3 separate regions of the Homo sapiens genome follow, and all the other regions are linked to region 2. The links come from fine-mapping of genetic effects on plasma protein levels. A gene starts in region 2. Each other region holds a variant in brackets. All regions are shown on one strand. Distances are between the middles of the regions.

Region 1 (6,797 bases), 27 kb before region 2:
CCCATGGCCCTGGCTCTACTTACAAGGAGGGCGACAGCTCCGGGTGATGCACTGAGAAAGCTGTCACCTGAGCAGTGACCCTGGGGACTCGGGAATGCTGACTCTCCAGAACCAGCCATTTTATGGCCCCCCATCAAGCACTTCTGTGGTTGGTGCCTCCAAAAAAGGTTAGGGCCCAGCAGGCATTTGCTCATTTTATTCCTGCAACCCCGGTACGGTCGCCACTATTAGATCCCCCTGCAGATGGGCAAATGGAGACTCAGAGATCCTTCTGCAGCCAAAGTCTCCCAGATACCAGAGGTGTCTGACTTCATAGGCCACAAGGCATGTCTGCTGCTCACCCACGTGCACGGTCCCTGAGATGAGCAGCACGAAGCTCCCAGGAGAACCCGGCGCGCCATTGGCAGCACCAGAAAACAGGTCTCCAGCTTGCTAAGGGATCTGCCATCCAGCAGCTGTGTGGCCCTGACGAGTTCCCCAAGGAATGCATCTGTCATCTGTTTCCTCCTTGCACAAAACAAGACAATATGCCTCCTGGAGGTCACAGCATGACGCTCGGCATGAGGATGGGCCCACCCCAGCTGGCAGGGAAAGAGAGGAAGCTGCCGGAACAGACCTACCTGCTTTCACCAACCACAGGCCAGAGGCACCAGGAGAACATGTAAGAGATAGAGAGAGGATAGCTGTCAGTCAAATTATTTGTATAAAATGTCCAAATATAAGTCACAAATAGCCCGATAATCTCAAAAAGCAAAAATCAAAGCAGTAGTTTAAAATCTTCCTAAAATATTGAGGAAATGCCTGCAGCTTACATTCAAATGATTCTACTAAAATGCAAAAGCATGTATATAACTACATATATAAATATACATGTAAGTACACATGTATCTACAGATATACATATATGTAAACAGCAAGTGAGAGCACCCACTCACAAGCACAAATATTGCAAAATGTTAACAAGCAGTGGGTCTCGGTGAAAGGTATGAGGTTCACTTTACTACCATTTCAACGACTTTGTAAGTTTGACATTTTTCAAGATAAAAAGTTAGGGGTAAAATTCCTACAAAGAAAGTGCTGGGCTATTTCTACCAAATTTTAAAAGAACCAGATTTTTGTAAGCAAACCCTCCTAGACAAGAGTAAAGCAGTGGACACTCCCAATTCATTCTATGAGGCCAACATAATCCTAATACCGAAGTTGGACAAATGCACAAGAGAGGAAAATTGCAGCCTGGTGGACACATCTGCTAAGCTCAGAGTTCAAATATAGATACAAAAATTCCTCAACAAAAATCTTATCAAATCCAACCCAATTGAGCATATAAAAGATATTACACTACGACCATACTTAGTAACCCCAGGTATGCAAGGATGGCTTAACAGGAGAAAATCCATACATGTGACTCATCACAGCAACAGACTACAGAGCTCAGTAAATGTGTAAGAAGCATCTGCTAAAAACACTATTCATAATAAAAACTCTCAGGAAACTAGGAATAGAAGTCCCTTAATTTGGCCAGGCGTGGTAGCTCACACTTGTAATCCCAGCACTTTGGGAGGCTGAGGCAGGTGGATGACTTGAGGTCAGGAGTTCAAGACCAGCCTTGCCAACATGGCGAAACACCGTCTCTACTAAAAATACAAAAAAAAAAAAAAAAAAAAAAAAAAAATTTAGCATGCATGATGGCACGCACCTATAAAGAGGCTGAGGCGTAAGAATCACTTGAACCCAGGAAGTGGAGGTTGCAGTGAGCGGAGATCGTGTCATAGCACTCCAGCCTGGGCAAAAGAGTGAAACTGTCTCAAATTAAAAAAAAAAGTTCCTTAATTTGATAAAGTATCCCCAAAACCTAGAGCAAGCATGGTCCCCATGGGGAAGAGTCAGATGCATTCCCTCTAAGATCATGAATAAGACAAAGATGTCCACTCTCTCTAAGGCAATTCTGCATGTACTGGGGATCTCAGCTGACACAATAAAACAAGGAGGAACTAGGGACCTAACTGTCCCAGTAGAGTCCCCTTGCCTGTCCTTCTTGTCTTTAGTGAGTACCCCGTGCAGGCATTACTAGGCTGGGGGCTTCACACACCCTCTCAGACAGCCGGAGTCCCGGCATGGGGGAGGGCTACTTTTCTTGCCCACTGCCCTTGCCCTGGGTCCAGAGCACCCCATAGTTAAGGCTGTGGGTTTGCGCTCAGTGAGGTGTGAGTCCTGGAGGTTTGGGGCGGCCATGGCACTGGAGCAGCAGAAGGAAGCATTAGCCTCCTCAGTCTGGATCCTCACTGTGTCTCTTGGGGGCTAGACCTCTGGCAGGGAGGGCCCCAGGCACTGGGTGAGCTCAGAAGGTGCGTCAGCGGGAGCAGCTGGCTTCTAAATGAGCTCACCAGGGCCTGAGGGAGAGCCCCTGGCTGCAGGACCTGGGTCCTCCACAGGCTGACGCCATGCCTGGGGCAAGGTGGACCTCAAGGGAGCCAGGGCACAGGCTGTGTGCCTCACCTGGCCTGGCCTCTCCAGCCTGGGGCTCTTGTTGCCTCATACCAGTCCTGCTGCTTTCCATCACTTGGCCCCTCCTCTTTCCACGGGGAGGCCCTGGACAGACCTCACGGAGGCAACCCAGCAAGGATGTGGCTAACAGCTGTGCAGGGGCGCCGGCGGGCATCTGTCCACAGGCTCTTCCCCAAGGGCATACACAGGCTTCCCTATAGGTGCTTCTTGCCCTCCATTCCTTCCGTCCAACACCCTCCCTGCTCAGGGCTGACAGGCTCCTCTGAATGCACACTCTTCTCAACGCCAGGGGAGACCCTGCCAAGCTCCTCCATCCTAGGGTGGCTGTGTGGGGAAGGGTCCGGCTCAGGAGAAGGCCCCTGGATGCCAGGAGAGGGGCCTGGATGGAGCCGGCAGGGGAGGCGGCACAGGGCAACAGTGAGGAGGGTGAACTGAGGCCGGGGGGGCTGGGCCCAGCAAGAGTGCCAGGGATTCCTGGCCCTGCCCAGCTCTAGGCCCTCTCAGTGCCACAGAGACCACCTGGTGAAGGTGTGGGGAGAGGGATCCCCAGAGGGTCCATGCCAGGCAGTCTGGGCCTGCTCACACCATGTGTATCCTTCCATAGGGCCCACGCCTGGCAGGACCCTGGCTTGGAGCGGCTTTAACTGTGGCTGGGCTCCTGAGGAGGTAAGGTGGGCCCTGTGTTCCACGCCCAGCTACCCACCCAACACCTTCTCAGGGCAGGGACGCCCACACCAGTCTGGACACAGAACAACCCGGGGCGAGACACGTACTGGAGAAGACTGTGCTCCTCACCCCGGCGCTCTGGGACCTTGCTTCCCAGAAGCTGGAAGGAACCAGCCAGGCATCCCGGCGAGGATGTGGAGGGTGGTGGTGGGCCCACCCCTGCCTCAGGGAGGGCGGCCAGGCTCACGGGGAGGCTGTGGCATGTGGGCATGTGAGTGGGCAGGGACAGCCCAGCAAGGGCTGTGGGAAGCCGGGAGGGCAGTGCCCTGTGCAGTGGCTCCAGATTCAGGGCATTCAGTGTGCAGCAGGCCAGGGCAAATGGCACGGGGGGAATGGGGCGGAGGGGAGGGGCGGTGACTCACAAGGCCATGGGGG[C/T]GGGCAGAGGAACAAGGGCAGCAGGAAGGGCAGGCAGGGGTGCTATCAGCTGACGGGCTCCTGCTGGAAAAGACGGCTCGACTCACAGGAGGGCACCTGAGACATGGGGTGTGGGGGAAGGCAGCGGTCGGGGAGAGCCTAGGCAGGCCTCCCACTTGTCAGCCTCCCCAACTCTGTTGCCACTCCTACTGCAAAAGAGCCCTGGAGACCACCCTGGGTCTGGGGTCCTTGCCGTGGCTGCAGCCCCCCGCTGCCCACAGCCTGTGTGGTTCCACCCATGGGCCTGGTGGAGCTGGTCCCTGCTCTGCTCCGCCACACCAGGCCTCCCTCCCCAAAGGCTGGGCCTTGCTCTGCATGCAGTGGGGCCCAAACCAGCCAGGCACTCCAGCGTCCCACCCGCACACCCTGTCTCCTGCGGAAGGGCACCGCTCCCAGGCACAGCCCGCTCTGAGCCAGGGGCATGTCACACAATATGGCGCTTTTCTCCTCTTCTGGCCTGGCTCCCCATAAGCCTGCCCAAGGGCCAGCCTGGGCCTGGGCAGAGCAAGGCCTGGGAATGGCTAAGGCTTTGAGGCCTGGAATGAAGCATGACCGTCACTCCCTAAAGCCATGAGTAAAGCTAGTCTGAGGAGTAACTGTGGCGGCTGCCACCACCTGCTGGGCACTTTCCTTGCAAACACTGGGGTGGCTCCAGATTTCCCAGAAACCACTGTTCCTCATACCCCAGGACGGGAGGGGACCTTCGAAGTTGGAAGGAGAGCAGCAGCAGACCATGGTCCGAGGGGCGCTTCCCGGGGCCACAGCTTTGGGGGATGTTTAGCAAAACCAGGGGCTGGTATGGCCTGGAGGGCCCGGAGTCAGAGGAGGAACATGCTCCCAGATTCTTTGGGGCCCACGGGGACAGAGGGCAAAGAGAGACCATCAGGTGGCCTCAGGTCACCAGTGAAGGAAGGCGAGTTACATTTATACCAAGCACCTGTTTTGGGGGTCCTCTGGGGGATGAGGAAGGTTGGATTAACCACCAGCTCAGAAGGCCAGTGCTATGTGAGCAGGGTCTGTGGCCACATAGGATCCAGTTAGTCCTGTGGTCAGCCTCTAAGTGTGGAATGGCCATGCTGAGCCAGGCAGAAGCTGACCCAGTCCTGCTGAACATCCCAGGGCAATGGTTTCACCACAGGTTGGGGGTCCATGCTGAGACCACGCTGCAGGGACACAGGGGCACCATGTGGGTCCCGAAGCCAGTAGGCTTGGCTCTGTACCTCCTTGAGGGCAGGGCCCTGCCCTCTCCTCTCTGCACCTGCCCTGCTGGCCCAGACCCTCTGCTGGAAACCTGCCCCAAACTCCATGAAGCACTGTCCTTCACATCACAGCTTCTGAGCCTGGACTTGACAGCCTCCTCCTGAGACCCCACATGGCTCTTCTGTCATACACGCCCTGTGCCCGGCCCTGGCACTGTGCTCTGGATGGCCTGCACCAGGCTAGTGACAATTCACTGACTCTACTGCATCAGAGGGGGCACAGGGCGGGGTGGGCTGTGATGGAGGGCCCCGGGCCCTGCCCATGAAGTGCCGCAGTCCCCGAGGGAGGGGAGGGCTCTCCTTGCTAGTGCTTGGGTCTTCCTTTGTTCTCAGCCTGTCTACTGGGTAGGTGGGACTTGCCACCTTTAGAAACTTGTTCACCCTGGGGCAGCCTGTCAGAGTCAAGAGGCGCTGGCTGTCCTTAAGATGACACCAGTTTCAATAGGTTGGTGGCCCAGGTAGGATGGAGACGCTGTCACACTCCCACCTGGGAGCTGCGGCCCCTCTGAGGACAAGTGCTCTGGGGCCTGGAGAGCTGGGAGAAGAAGGTGGGCTACTGGGCAGTAAAGAGGCTCCACCGCAAAGAAGGGAGGCGTGTGTGTGTGTGTGTGTGTGTGTGTGTGTGTGTGTGTGTGTGTGGAGGGGGAGACAAAAGAGGTCTTCGGACCACCCTCCCACACCCAGGCTCTGGGATTTCCTGACTGTGGCCCACAAGGTACAGGGGTGTCAGCCTGGGTGGGCAGGCCCTGGAGCCTCCTGCTTCCTGAAACTCCTTCCTTCAGGCACATTTGTGCTGATTCTCCATGGACACAGCCCTAGCACCCCCAGAGAGGCTCCAAGGAACAAGGAAAATAAGAAGCAGTTGCCAGGATACCCAAGGCTCAGTGGGCCCCATGACCTACTCCAAACCACCTCCCCCTCTTGGTTTTCCTGTGTGGCAAGGCAGAAATGCAGGAGTCTGAAGGCAGAGGGGTCTGGATGTGCCCAGTGAGGAACCAGCAACTGAGTGACCATGCGCAGATCCAGTGCCCTCTGAGCCCTGGGTCCCTCTGTCCTGAAGGGCTACTGTGAACACCGTGAGATGTTGCCGGCTGATGGCACAGGCAGCATCCTTGCTGCCTCCCCTGTGCTGGGCACACCCATACTGGCTCATTTGGTTCTCTCCTCACTCCAGGGCAATGGGTACCATTCTTCTCTCCACTTCAGGGCAGGGGGTACCACTCCTCTCCGTTTATAGTTGAGGAGTCAGGCACAGTGAGGTGAAGGCCCTTGCTCAGGGCCACACAGCTAGGCAGCTGCCTGGGTGTCCACACCCTTGACTGCCAGGGCTTGTGACTAGGCTCCCAGCACATGCTGGGACCTGAGAGGCTCTCCTGGGACTAACACAAATCTTTCCCAAACTTTTCCAAAAATCTGAAGTGAAAAGAATACTTCCTAACTCATTCTATGAGGTCAGTATTATCCTGATATCAAAGCCAGACAAAGATATAACAAGAAAATTACACACTGATGTCCTTTATAAATACTGATGAAAATATCCTCAGCAAAATACTTGCAAATTGAATTGAACAGCATATAAAAATGATTATGTATCATGACCAAGTGAGATTTATCCCTAGAATGAAAGGATGGTTCAAAATATGAAAATCAATGTAGTATGCCACATTAACAGAATGAAGGAAAAAAACACATGATCATCTCAACTGATGCAGAAACATCATTTGACAAAATTCAATGCACCTGCATAATAAAAACTTTCAACAAACTAGAACCAGAAGGAAACTACCTCAGTGTAATAAAGGCCATTGCTATGGACTGAATGTGTGTGTTCCACCAAAACTCATGTTGAAGTCCTAATCTCCAACGTGATGGCATTTGGAGGTGGCGACTCTG
Region 2 (6,797 bases):
GGGTGGGGTGCTGTCACCTGCCCGGTAGCACAACCCACTTCCAGAGTGGGTGGCAGAGGGGGCCTCCTGACGGCCCTGGAAGCCCCTCCCAACCCTGGCGCATGCTGCTGAGCTAGCAATTTCCAGGCTGGCAGCCCACCTCCGCCAGAGGCATCTGCGTTTTCCATTCTTGCTCCACACATGCTCCCTGGGCAGGGGGAGCCGGGCCTTCCTGGTGTAGCACCTGGGGCCCCATCGGCCCCACCTGGTCCTCCCACTCTCATGGACAAACTCCAGAGAAAGGAGGCCAAGGCTCTTCACCCTGGGGACCCACAGGCGTGCGGGGCTGCAGGAAGAGCATCCTGGTTGCAATCTAGGGCTGAGGTGGCCTCTGCTGAGCAGGCTTGTTTCAAAAGCTCCGGCTTCTTGGCGGCCCGAAGCTTCCACGCAATCCTCTTAGGCTGCCGAGCTAAGTCCCTCTGGCAAAGGGGGTGACCCCCATCCTTGCACCCCCCACAGGTAGGGAGGCGTCTGTTGGTATTGGTCAGTGACCAACTCTGGGAGCCTACTGCTCTGACTGGTGGAAGGGTGGGTGGGGGCATGGCTGTGGTCCCAGGCACAGCTGAGCCTAGCACAGAGAAGCTGGACCAGGGTTAGGGGGGCCCTGCAGCAGGAACGTGCATCTGTGCAGAGCAGACTAAGTGCTGGGCCGGAAGCAATCCTTCAGGGGCCCTAGACAGGCAGCTCTGTGACCGCCAAGTGTAGAATGTGGCTGTAAGAGGCTCAGAACATCACCTCCCAGGCTGGGAGCTGCAGTGTGTGTGTGTGTGTGGGTGTGTGTGTGTACAGTTGGGGGAGGGGGGAGAAAGAAAAGTGGGAAGATGCCCCTCCAACTCTAGGACCCCAATTTCCTGACAGCCTGAGAAAGACCACAGAGCAAGGATTGAGGTCTGTGCAGGGGAGCAGTGTCTCGGACTCTGCTCAGCTCCAGGCTGGCTGGACCTTCCAGGCTCCCCAGGCACACCTGAGAGCCTACAGCCTCTGGACCCAAGAGTGCCAGCCAACACGCCTACAACCGCCCAGCCTCCTACCACCAGCCTGTCTGCAAATTCAGTCCTAAGGCAAATTTGGAAGAGAAACAAAAGGCAGACAAGAAGCCCTGCTCCTGGCCCTTCCCAGCCCAGACTTTGGGGAGAAAGGCCCCGCAGGGCATCCCTGCAGGACGAATGGGCACCAACAGGAACAGGAGGAAAATAACCCCAACTTTAACTGCTGGAAACCCAGCAGCACCCCAGGTTCCCCTACAAACGGCTTCCCAGAAGAGCTGCCCCGGCACCCCTCCCATGCTCTGTGTCCTCACGCAGCTCAGCTCTGACATGGGGCTGGGGGACCCCAGAGAAGGGGTGTGGCAGCACAGGTTCCCTGGACCAGCTCAACTACCCCCAACCTGGCTGGTAGCTTCCTGGGGAAGGTGGTCCCCCATCGGGTGGCTTTTGTTCCTCTCTCCAGGCAAGCCTGTGCCTGGAAGAATTCGGCTGGCAGGCCCCACTGGGAGGACAGGCGGTACTGCCTCCTCCCCGCCCCCAGCCCCAGGTCAACAGGGCCTTTGTTCTACCTGCACACACCGGCAGGCAGGCGGGCAGAGCCAGCCCCCTTCCCTGGCAGCTCCCCCACCCTCTGAAGGCAGGCACTCCAGGCACAGGGGCGGCACCTCACTACTCTCACTTCCACTTTTGGGACCACAGCACCGAAGCGGCACGGGGAAGCCAACACTCCAGGTAGGCCACGCACACACCCAGAAGCCCGCGTCCCCAAGTCCGGCGGGCCAGACCTCACGGCGCACAGCAGGTAAGGTGGCCCGAGGGCAGCGGGCGGGGACCCTGGAGAAAACCCGGGCGCTGCGCAGTCAAGCCGGCAGTAGGGCAGCACAAGGCAAGGAAGAGAGTGAGAGCGAGGTCAGAAAGCGCGGTGACAGCCGGCTCACCCAGAGGAGCTGGGAGCCTCGGGCGCTCGGCAGGTCGGGAGGGGTGCCGGCGAGTGGGGGCCCCCAAGAGGGCAGAAGGGGGTAGGGAAGGCAGGGCCGACCCAGTACAGCACGGCGGGCATACGGCCCGGCCTCGGGGGCGCAGCTGCGCGAGGATCCCGCCGCCCGGGCGCTCACCTGGGCGTGCGCAGCGCGGCGGAGTCGCGGCGGTCCAGCACGCCGGGCACGCAGTTGGTGAGCTCGGTCCAGTCGGCGTGCAGCCCGCAGCTCCAGCCGGTGGAGAAGCGGGAGAAGAGCCAAGTCTCGCGGCGGTTGGGCCGGTAGCAGGTGCACTTCTTCTGGCCGGGCCGGCAGTCGCACGGCACCTCGAGGCGTACGTTCTGCACGAGGTGGCGGCCGAAGGTGGTGCCGCCCGTCTTCTGGATGTGCAGGAAGACGATCACGTCGTCGCCCTTCATGTCGAAGCGCAGCGAGCGCTCCAGCTCGCGGACCGGGAAGTAGTACTTCTTCTCGTAGTGGGGGTCGGGTGTGGGGAACAGGTCCAGGTCGTCGGGCGGCGCGCGGCCGCCGGGCGCGCCCAGGCTCAGTCCTGGGCCCGCGTACTGGTACAAGATGAGCATGAAGCACACCGAGCCCGCCACCACCAGCACGAACTTGCTGGCGCGCTCAACCATGGTCCTGCCGCCGGCGCGCCGCCGCCGCATGTGTCACCATCGCCGGGGCCCGGGCGCGGGGCGCGGGGCCTGGGAGGGCAGGAGGCGCGGGCGCAGCTGCCTCCGCCGCCGCCCGCGCTCCGGCCCGGCCCGGCTACTCGGCGCCCAGGCCGCCCGCAGCGGCGCGGGCCCCGACCCTCCGCGGTGCCATGGCTGCTCCCCGCCCGGCCCCGGCTCCCCGGGCCCGACGCCCGACTCCGCTCCCGCTCGGCCCCGCTCCCGGCCCCGGCCAGCACAGCGCTCTCCGCGCCCCCAGCACCAGCCCGCTCCGCTCCACTCCGCGCCGAGAACGCTCTGCGCCGCCCCGCGCGCCGCCGCGTCTCCGCAGTCCGCCGCCGCCGCCCCGCCCCGGTCCGCCCCTGGCCCGCCCCCGTGGCGTCTCTTGCCGTCGCCGCCCGCGCCGATCCTCGGCCCCGCCTCCGGAGTGCCGGGGTTCGCCGCGGGTGCTGGGCGCGGGACCTGGGTCTGCTGCGGTGGCGAGGCCGCTAGCAGGCGGGCAGCCAGCGACTGGGAAGTGATTCCGCCCTCAGGGGAGTGGGGGACCAACCGGCAGTGCGGAGCCGAGGCGTGGGAGGCTCTCCTGGCGGGGGCCGCGGTGAGGGGGCGCGGCGGCTGGCGCTTCTGGAGCCTGGGTCCGTACCCCCTCCTCCCCAAGTCCCAGCCGCCCACGTCCCCGCAGCCCGCGCGGGAGGAAAGGCCTTGACCTTGCACGCTGGGGCGCTGAAGTTAGACGCTAGCCTACTGGGCTGCACTTCCAGGGACCAGGGCGGCGGGGGCCGCCCACCACCAGGACCGAGAGGGAAAGCGAGGCTTTCCTTTCCTGCTCGACCCCCTCACCCCTGCGGCTGGCTTTGGGACAGTGCCCCGCAGCCCCGCATTGAAGAGATGTTGGGCTGTCTGCAGAGGCCTGCGGAGCGGCTTTATGGCTTCCTCCTTGTTTGAAAAGAATATCAGACGAGGTGCATTTTCCCCCATCCATGTTTATTATACTCCAATGAAAGAGTTATAAAACATTGAGCCAATTCTTAAGAATCGTGAGTGCCCACCAAATATTCTGTCTTTCGTGGGTTGGTTGGAGAGTCCAGCGGCCCGGGCCCAACCTGGCTGCGGAGGGCTCGCTCCACGTTGGCTCGTGTGTGGGCCGGGTGGTGCGGGCTCCTCACTCGCCGCCGCCCAGCCTGGCAAGCACGCGCGGCATTCGTGGGGCGGGGGGTCCCGCCAGGTGCCCACTCACACTGCTTGGGCTCTGGCAGTACTCGGAGGCTGCAGCCCGTCGGAAGCGCAGGAGTGGGGCTGGGACCTGCCAGGATCTCACAGCTGCAGGGCCGGCCGCGGTGGGCCCTAGTGTGTTGGTTCAGGCCAGCGAGGGCTCTGGGAGCGAGTCTGGCTGCCAGGCGTGGGCTCCCAGTGTCCACGTCAAGCCCTGCCGGGGACGGGGTGGGGGGGGAGGCGGGGTGGTGCCCTGCCTTCCGTTCTGTTAGGGACCGGAAGCGATCATGGGGTGTCAATTATGCCTCAGTAAAGCTGTTAAACGTAGACAACATCACACCAGAAAGCCCTCCTGGAAGCAAACCCAGAGAGCTGGAAAAACCAACACCCCAAACCCAGCTGAGCGGGCGGCATGCATTTTCCAAAGGGACCGCAAGAATATCCGCTGTGGACAGGCGGGTGCAGAACCCTCAACACAGCCCAGCGCACCCTGGAGTCCATGGTGTGGGGTCCTCAGTGGGACCTAGGGCCCCAAAGCCCCTGCTCATCTTGTAGGCTGCTTTAAAACTGTCCCTGGCCCGAGGGTCCTGGGGGCAGCTTGGACAAGCTTCTCCAGAAGTGACTCATTCCTATAGGAGTGGGGGTGCAGTCCCCATGGGACACAGGTGGGGCCGCCCTGCAGTGTGCTTGGACCTGCCTGCAGCCCCTTGACGCAGTCTGTGCCTGAGCCCTGGGGAGCCTTCCTGTGTGGCCTAGGGGAGCACAGCTGCCCCGGGTCCACCCCCCAGATGTCCTTACCCAGATAAGGATCCTCGTGCTACATCATAATTAAGGCTGCTCTTTTGGAGACCTGCTGGGTGCCAGGCATTGTAGAGGTGTCATTTCCAATTCCATCAGCAAATCTGCGGGGGTAGGCTGTGATATCCATTTACAGAAGAGAAAACTGAGGTTCAAAGGGGTTAAGACCCTGGTTCCAAGGTCAACCACTCTCACCCCATGAGAGTCAGCAGAGCTGGGATCCTGATTCCTGCTGTGAGCCCCAGAACCCTCCCCTTCCCCACCTCTGCACTTGCCCCAGCTCCCTAGGCCAGGGATGAGAGCGTCTACAGGGGCCACTCCTGAGAGCCTGGTGACCGTCACTGCCACCAAGGGGGAACGTGGGCCCAGAGTGTTCAAGGGAAAGCTGGAGCAGCTCCGAAGGCCAACGAAGCCATCGGTACTTGGGCCATGGCTCCACCCTGTGATGATCTCACTGTCCCAAGGGGGAAACTGAGGCCCAGGCAGGGACGAAGTGCCTGTGATAAGGTCCCACCCTTGAATGGGAGCCAGAGCAGCCTGACCCATGGAGCAACATCTCCCAGAACAAGCTATTTAATCCAACTTCATACCTGCCACACTGGCTGATGGGAAGCACTCACATTAGCCAGGAAGCCCTTTCTTTCTAGAATTCTTTTAAGAGGAGGGAAATCTGCCTGGCTGGCTACAGGACTTTGCTCAGTCTTCCACTTTGATTGAAGCCCTGCACAGGCACCTGAGACCCTAAGGCTGTAGGTGAGTTTCTGGGCTCTGAAAGTCAAGTCAGATGAGCCACCCATCAATCAGTGGACACTTGAGCCGAGTGGAAGGCAGCTCGAGCCCTCGTTGGCGGGGCAGCTTGCATCACGCTACTCCCCACCACTTCCCGCTACTCCCCGCGATGAGTCCTCAGTGTCATGTCTTGGAAAATGGATAGAAACGCACAGTCTGGGGCTGGCGTGGGGTTCCAGGAGGTCAGCGGACACAGCCAGGGTCTCAGGAGGCGCGCTCTGCGCGCTGTTTCCTTTCTTCCCTGGGTGATCTCCTGCGTGGCCAAGGTTTGCCCCAGCCCCGAGAGTGCATATGAGCTAAGTGTTTGCTAGGGGCAGCTTCTGGCCCTGACTGCTTGTGGGGTCCAAGGAAAAGCACTGGCAGCTCTTCTGCTCAGTGGCTTTGTCCCCTGAAGATCCACTTCACCAATTCTTTAATGCGTGATCTCTGACTTAATGGCAAAGAAAAGTAAAAGAACACGGCTTAGTGGCAGGCTGTGATGATCCCAGAAGAGGCATTAACATTCGGCTTCAGGAATGAAGCCTCATTCCCGGCCCACCGTGCGGTCTCAGAGTCTGAGAACCACGAGATCAACAGCGGCGCCCCCTCCCGGCGCACAGTCCCGCGGACGGCCGCGCGGGGGCAGCACGCGGCCCGGCCCCCGAGCGCCCGCGGTTGACTTTGCAAAAAATTGGGGGATTTTCCACACTCGCTTCCCTCGTCGTTCGTCCGGCGGCCGCCCATTGTTGTTTGCCAAGGGGTGGAGGAGGGCAGTCGTGTCTGTCCTCAGAGCCTCCCGTGGGGCTGGCCCCGCTGCCCACGCGGGGCAGAGAGAGGGGTTTCGTTTGGGGACAAACTTTTAGAGGGGACTCCGGCTCGCGCGGACCCGCGGGGCCCGGCCCCGGCCCCGACCCCGACCCGGCGGCAGGCTTGGGGCGCCGGGCTGCGCGCCGTGGACGCCACCTTCTCCGAGGTCGCCAGGCCCCGTCCGCAGCCGCCTCCTCCAGGGAGCCCGCGGCCCCTTTGCCGCCCAGCGGCCCCGTGCCGGGCTCCTCCCCCAGCACCGCGGGGCGCCTGGGCTCCCAGGCAGCCCGCAGACGCGGCAGGTCTTCCCAGGACCCGAGGGACGCGCTCCGGCCGCTGCCCGGGGACAGCAGGGGTCCTGCGGTTCGGTTCGAGGACCGCGCTGGAAGAGGCCCGGGGCTTCGGAAGGGCCATTCCCCTCCCTCCACGCCCGCCCAGGGCCTCGCTGTTCTTTGTGCCCTTTCTCTAGGCCCTCCAGGCCCGCTTCAGTCCTTAGGGGAAGAGGGTAGGATAAACAGAAGAGGAGAACCTGAGCAATTCGT
Region 3 (6,788 bases), 52 kb before region 2:
CTTCGGCCAGGTAACAGAACAAGACTCTGTCTTTAAAAACAAAAAAAGGTGGCCTTCAACTCTAAAGAGAAGCAGGAAGAGGAAAACCCCCATTCTGGGTGAGGTATTTTCAGGTCTGATTTCACCTTTGATCATGACACTGGCCCTACAGAGTCCAGTGGTACTATCAGAAGGTGGAGGAAGCTTCCATCTTGGCTCCCCCGAGGGAGAAGCCAGGCTGAGGGCTGGTCCACACCCCAAATAAACCTCCGCATGAAGTGTCCAGGAAGGACTCGGGAGTTCCTCTTGGCGTCTGGCCTCTGCTCCTCCCTTCCGCACTCTACCTAGGCATGAGCAGGTGTTGACGTGGAGTCTGAGACTGGGGTTTTAAGAAGGCAGCTACGTTCTGACTCCTGCCCTACTTGTGCCGTGACCCTCCCAGAAACACCTTGATGACCTTTGTCACTGGGATGGTGGCAGGTAGAAGCCGTGACCCTCCCAGAAACACCCTGGTGACCTTTGTCACTGGGATGGTGGCAGGTATGAGCTGGCAGGTGACCACTATGGCTGGGTTTCCCCAGGGGCTGAGTGGGGAGGCTGGACTTCCCTCATCTGGGGAACAGAGCCACAGGACACCTGGGCTGATGGAAGGTGCCTCACCCGAGGGCCTTCCTACCCAATTTCACCGAATCTGACCACTAGGAAACTGACATCTGTAGTTTTTTTTCTTTTTTTTCTTTTTTTTTTTTTTAGGAATCTTGCTCTGTTGCCCAGGCTGGAGTGCAGTGGCGCAATCTCAGCTCACTGCAAGCTCTGCCTCCCGGGTTCATGCCATTCTCCTGCCTCAGCCTCCTGAGTAGCTGAGGCTACAGGTGCCCGCCACCAAGCCCGGCTAATTTTTTGTATTTTTAGTAGAGACGGGGTTTCACCGCGTTAGCCAGGATGGTCTCGATCTCCTGACCTCGTGATCCGCCCGCCTCAGCCTCCCCAAGTGCTGGGATTACAGGTGTGAGCCACCACGCCCGGCCAACATCAGCAGACCTTTTAAGACAACTGGTCTCTACTAGTCAAATATGTCAATCCTAAGAAAGACGGAAAAAAGAAGGGGTAGCTGGGACCCTCTCCTCCATTCAAGGAGACAGGAGAGGCACATGGGGCACCGTGTGGTCCTGGGGCTACAAAATGCTCTGAAGACATCTCTAGGACAACCAGAAGATCTGGATATTGGAAAATACTGTATTGTTATAAAATCTGGGGGGGGGGCTGGGATAACAGGGTTGAGTTTTGTGGCAGAACGTCCTTAGGAGACACGAGCTGATGGATTTAGGAGTGCAGTATTCTGATGATCACAACCTACTTTCAGATGTTTCAGAAAAGCGCGCGTGTGTGCGTGTATGAGAAAGTGTGGGCACAGGATAAGAGAAGGTGAAAAATTTAGGCCAAGAGCATGTGGGTGTCCATGAACTATTCCTCCACTCTCTTTGTCATTTGAAATCTTTCAAAATTTCCAAAGACAGGGAGGGAAGAGGTTAATGAGAATGTAACTCAGTGGCACCTGCCTCCCTCTCAACTGGTGTCATCTTCCCAAATACTATCACTAATGATTAATAAACGGTTACTCTTTATGGTGATGACAAAGTCCCATTTTTTCTTTCAGAATGCCTTACTTAATGGGACTTTCCTCACTGAGCCTCCTGCACCTGTGCAAAGCACCCCGCCCTTGGGACGTGGTGTGAGACCCCACTGGGAGGGGCAGCTATGCCCGCAGAGACCACAGCACACCCGCCACTCCTTGTCAGGGTTTATTTCATCAGCTAACATTCATTCTCGACCTAGACAAAAACAATTAGATGATTATGACTTGCTTTTCCATCATCAACTCATTTTTTTGTATGAATAACCAAAAAATTTCTTCAACACTTTTTTTTAAGAAGAAGCTATAAATAAATAAAGCTTTAAACAATCCTGGGTTCAAGTTAAACAGTTCCAGTTCCCGAAAAGTTCACAGCCTTGTTTTGTGGGCAGTTCTGCTGTTCCTGGCTTCCCCTTCCAGGAGGGGACGTTTGCAGGTCTGGGGGTCCTGGTGACTAAGCTGTTAGCTCCACTCCCTGCCTGTTTCCGTCCTCACAGCCCTGGGAGGGCCCCGGTGGACAGAGTCCTTACAATTTAGGAGATGCTGCTGGCAAAGGAACTGTTGACCCAAAGCAGGTGGCCTGAATGGGAAGTGCCAGGCTGGACACTTGGGGGCTGAGGGCACTGCCAGCTGCCGCCGCCTCTGGACACCTCAGCCCGGCGCTGGCCCGAGAGGAGACTGCTTTCCAAATGCAGCGAAGAGACTGAGACAAGACCCGTGCTTCCGTGTGAGTTGGGATGCGGGGCATAAGTTAACACATATTCCAATATGTACAAAACAACCTGCGCTCAGGCCCGCGCACCCAGGAAGCCCATGGTGAAGGTGAGGTCACCTTGAGCCAGGCCTCTGGCTGGGTGTCCACCTCCTGCCGGGAAGCCAAGGTGCCCCACGTGGCTTGTGCAAGACCTCACAATCCCCTGAACGTGTTCCTCCTCCTCCAAGGAGTGCACCCACCCCCATGTTGAGTGTCCGAGCAGATTCCCATTGACCCTGACCTCCCTTTGAAAGAACCACACCACTAAATCCCCTTGGCACTCACTTCCTTAGTGTGATGCATCCACCCAGGGAGGTGGCCCTGCGCGGCGCTGGCACGCTGTCCACCCTGCCCTGTTGACCATCCTGTCCTTGGACCCCAAAGTAAAATGGGGCCAGTGTAGGAGACCTGAGGGTGGGGCCCTTATGCCAGACCTCCAGGGGTAGCGACCTCACCTGACCCCAGCTTCGGCTTCCTGTGCTGCAGAAGGCGCTTGCTCCCAAGCCCGTGGTGACCCACGTCTCCACCCCATGGTGTGGCAACTGTGGTGGCTGAGTGGAAGCTGGGGCAGGAGAGAGGACCCCCACCAACCCCAGCCAGGTGGCCTGCAGAGCCCACTGCCCTACCTCTGAGTCAGCCTGCGGCCTGAGCACACCAATCTACTCTCTGGGGGATCCAGGGTGCCTGTGTGGGCCCTCCTAGAGACACCAGCTTGGCCTCCTAGGGCATAAGGAATGGGGACAGGGCACAGGGCACGTGCTTACAACGGATATGCAACATGGCTTTTGGTAGGGCCATTGCAGCCAGTGGGGAAACCTGCGCGGCTGCTGGGAACAGAGCATGGCCAGCCTTTTGCCAGGGGGTGGGGAGCATGGGGAAATGCAAGGAGAGCCAGGGTGGGGAGGGCTGAGTGTCTGTTGTCAGGGAGGCCACCTACAGCTGTTTTGCCAAGGCTAGTTGAGAATCTGAAAGCTCGAGTCCCAGTTCCTGGCCATACAGAGCCACTGTGGTCCGAGGGTACGGCTCCTGGGCAGGGGCTATGGTCCCATGCTCCAGCCGATGGAAGCCTGATGAACTTAATCCGTACGCTGGTGGGAGCAGTGGTATTTGAGCTCTTGAGTATGTGTTTCGGTGATGGGGCTGGGGCAGCCTGCTAGCAAATCCCAGTGGGTCAGAAAGGAGAACAGAGGCAGGGGAGCCCTCGGTCCCCAGCCCTTCCAGTCTGAGCCAGGCCTGCCTGGATGGTCACCTCCAAGGGCCAGCCGCGGACTCACGCACAAGTGGCAGCATCCCTGGCCAAAGCCTCCCCACTCCTGGGCTGCCAGTTGGCCCGAGGAAGGCCGGCAATGCAGCTCGGGCCTACTACCCAAACCCCTCCTTGGTCTGAGGACTGTAGGGAGTGGGTGGGGCCTGAACATCAGCTTTGGCCTCCTGACCCAAAGCATGAAGCAGGACCATGGGCCAGAGAGGGGAGCAGGCTTCCTGGGGGCTGGACTCGAGTCTTCTCTGCCTCAGATGGGGTGGGCCCTGACTTTGAGGGAGCTACAGATGGGTGAGCTGGGGGCTCCCCAGGCCTCGGGGCATTGGGGGCAGCCAGAAGAGGAGGGGCTATGGGATGGCCTGGAGCTGGGGCAGTTGCCAGAAGCTGGTCTCACTCCTAGTAGCCCGGACAGAGGAGCTAAGAGCGAGTGCTGTGTGCATAGTTGGTGAGGGACACACTCCCGGCCTGGCAGGTCCACTTTCCGCTGTCCTCGTCTCTTGCGCAAACCTTCAGTTTTTGCGATAAATCCAAGGAGGCCAGGAGAGCAGCTCCAGGCACAACACCTGCTCTGGAGGCCCTGCCCTGACCATGGCATCCTTCGAGCACGCTTTCCTCTGACCCACTGGGCTGCACCTGTTGATTTCTCAAGCCCCCATCCCTGCCCAGCCCCACTACATCCCTGCTCTGTTTTTTTTCAGGACGCAGCTACCTCTGTGGAGCAGGTTTGGGATGCTCATCCCTTGACAGTCTTGGGTGGACCTGTCGTCTGTCCTGTTTTATCCCCCACACCCCCCAAGAGGCCTCCCCGTGGCCACCACCGCCACTACCACTTCTCAATGATGTGGCTCATGTAGTCCTCGGTGGGCACGCGGCCCGGCTCGTCGGCATCCTCCCGCGGCAGTGCCTCCTTGGCCCGGTGCAGCAGACGCTCCTCGCGGCTCCTCAGGCGCTGCTCCCTGCGCTCCAGCTGCCGCTTGTACTGGTAGCGCTGCTGGAAGAGGTCCTTGGCGTAGTCGTACAGCTGCATGTCCAGGTCGTTGAGCTCCTCGATGCGCCGGATGGTGTCTTCATCCACCTCCACGCCGCCCGCCCGCGTGCTATTGTACTGCATGAAGGGCCGGATGAACTTGAGGTTGAACGTCCGCTCGAACAGGTACTGCGTCTTGCGCTGGAACTCGGTCAGGCCGAAGAAGGCCATGCCCCGCAGGTTCTTCTTGGCGCTCTCGAGCAGCAGCTGGGCCCGCTTGCCCTCGGGGATGAAGGACAGGTTGTAGCAGCCCACCAGGCTCAGGTCGGCCAGCATGCGCACCTGGCGGTTGTTGGCCAGGTTGTACGGGCAGTCCATGAACTCCTGTAGCGTGCAGCCCGACCAGTCCGTGCCCTCGTAGCAGGGCGGCAGCTCCTCAG[G/A]CGTGGGCGTGCGCCCATCACACATATGCAACGACGTCTTCCACGTGGCACCCCTCTGCACATGCCGCCACTCGCTCAGGTAGCGGGACACGGGGTCTCGTAGCAGGGTGATGTAGTAGAACTTCCTGCAAGGAGACGGGGAGAGGAGGTGAGGGCTGTGACGCAGCATGAGGGGGGCTACCAGGGCTGCTCTGAGTCAAAGTCCCCACTACAGGAGTTTGGGCTTCGCCTCTAATGCCAACCAACTCCTGCACTTAGCTCTCAGTCGTTTCAAAACCCGGTATCAGAGATGCCAAGGAGCATGCCACGGTCACATGGCTACCCAGGATGACCACCACAGTGCCCTGCAGCGCCTGGCCTGGCTCCTCTGGAGGGACAACCTGACTTTTTCCTGCTGGTGGGTGGAGCCACCAATACCGCATCCAGAGAAGTCGCAGAGCCACAGCCGCCTGAGGCCAGCAGTCTTCACCAGCTGTTTACAGCCTGGGCATGGTGCCACCCAAAGAGCCACTCAGCAGGAACAGAAGGTGGGCAGGGGCCAGCGAGGGTCACCTCCAGTCCCAGTCCCAGGGTCCTGCCAAGGCCTGGTGGTGGTTGGGGGGGGGGTGCCCAGCGGACCAGCCAGCCCAGGACCCCAGAGGAAGCCATGACGTATACACCAACTCTACTTGCTGGGTTGTCCCCCAAGACACCAACGCATTGCACAGTATGTAACGGTGCGTGCACAAGGGAGAAACGACCCAAGGAAGACTCCACCTCCCACCCTCCCCTGCGCGGCAGGAGCCCAGCATGAAGCATGTCCTTGCCAGGCTCGCTATGACGCTGGGCTGGAGGCGTCAGGACACTGGACAGGTGGGTAAAACGTGGTGGCGGCTGTGGATATGCCCGGTGTGTGTGTGTGGGCTCAGCCCCGGGAGAGGCTGCAGTCATTCTTAGAGGGCTCCTCCTCCTGGCTCCTGTCCACGCTGGGGTGGGTGGGCTTCAGGCCAAGTAGAACCAGGGCCAGGCAGGCAGCCTAGGAGCCCACAGGGCCCCTCACTGCCCGGGGGAGCAGCTCCAGAAGGGCCCTGACCCCCCGCCAGGATTCCCCAGATGGCAACATGGAAGTGTACCCACACTGCTCCCCTCCTCCCCTCACACTGCCCTGGGCAGGGGTGGGGGTGGGGGGCATGGAGGGACCCCGGGGAGCACAAAGCGCTTCTTGGTGTCCGCTGGCAACTGCCTGATCTGACCGCACACCTCCCTGCAGGGAGGGAGGCACAGTGCCTGGCAAGTGGTGCGGTGCCACTGCAGGCCACCCCCGCCTATGAGGACATGTCAGAAAGCCCCAGGGGTGGCAGCTCTGAAGCAGGCGGGGTAGCCAGTGATGGCTCCAGGGGCAGGCAGCAAGGCCAGCACTACTGCATGCAGACTGCCGAGGAAGGGACAGGCAGCTGTCATCCGCCCAGTGTTTTCTGTGGCCTGGCAGGCTCAGACCCTGCCCTGGAGGAGCTCTCAGCAGATGGGGTGGAGGAAGGACCCAGCAGGACTGAGCTGACGACCCCAGGGTCAGGCACGGCTGGTCTCCAGGGGGCAGATAAGCTGTGGGCAGCAGGGGCGAGAGCAGGCCTCAGTTTCCCTGCTCCAGGCTCCCACTTCACACGTCCCAAGGCACACCTGGCCCTCCCCAAGCACCCTGCACCCACAGCCTGCCTGGTACCACCCATCCATGCTGATGGCAGCAGCTCCTGGGCACTCGGGGCCTCAAGGGCCAG

Alleles and levels. Positions count from the first base shown, and alleles are read on the strand shown. Strength reflects both the effect of a copy and how common the allele is.
As copies of C replace T in region 1, the plasma level of the protein whose gene starts at base 2,972 in region 2 goes up (moderate association).
As copies of G replace A in region 3, the plasma level of the protein whose gene starts at base 2,972 in region 2 goes up (moderate association).

What was found. PIP is the posterior inclusion probability: the model's chance that the variant is causal. The UK Biobank Pharma Proteomics Project read protein levels with antibody pairs (Olink). The fine-mapping took linkage between variants from a reference panel, not from the people measured, so its PIPs are less certain.
Region 1: its variant is fine-mapped to the plasma level of the HS6ST1 protein (UK Biobank, PIP above 0.99).
Region 3: its variant is fine-mapped to the plasma level of the HS6ST1 protein (UK Biobank, PIP above 0.99). The variant lies in the coding sequence of HS6ST1. If it changes the protein, the assay may bind it differently, which can mimic a change of level.

Annotation. Positions count from the first base shown.
Region 1 is chr2:128,289,174-128,295,970 of GRCh38, forward strand. The region is part of intron 1 of HS6ST1 (heparan sulfate 6-O-sulfotransferase 1); the gene reads right to left. Among named protein-coding and RNA genes, the nearest start is that of HS6ST1, 26 kb to the right of the region's middle. RefSeq lists an enhancer at 5,948-6,497. The variant C/T (reference allele first, on the strand shown) is at 3,607.
Region 2 is chr2:128,315,897-128,322,693 of GRCh38, forward strand. HS6ST1 (heparan sulfate 6-O-sulfotransferase 1) reads right to left here and starts at 2,972. Exons shown (of 2, transcript NM_004807.3): 1 at 2,141-2,972. The coding sequence starts at 2,667. RefSeq lists an enhancer at 830-979 and silencers at 1,981-2,210, 2,905-3,314, 5,971-6,290, 6,331-6,540.
Region 3 is chr2:128,263,712-128,270,499 of GRCh38, forward strand. It overlaps HS6ST1 (heparan sulfate 6-O-sulfotransferase 1), which reads right to left. Exons shown (of 2, transcript NM_004807.3): 2 at 1,769-5,159. The coding sequence ends at 4,451. Among named protein-coding and RNA genes, the nearest start is that of HS6ST1, 52 kb to the right of the region's middle. The variant G/A (reference allele first, on the strand shown) is at 5,035.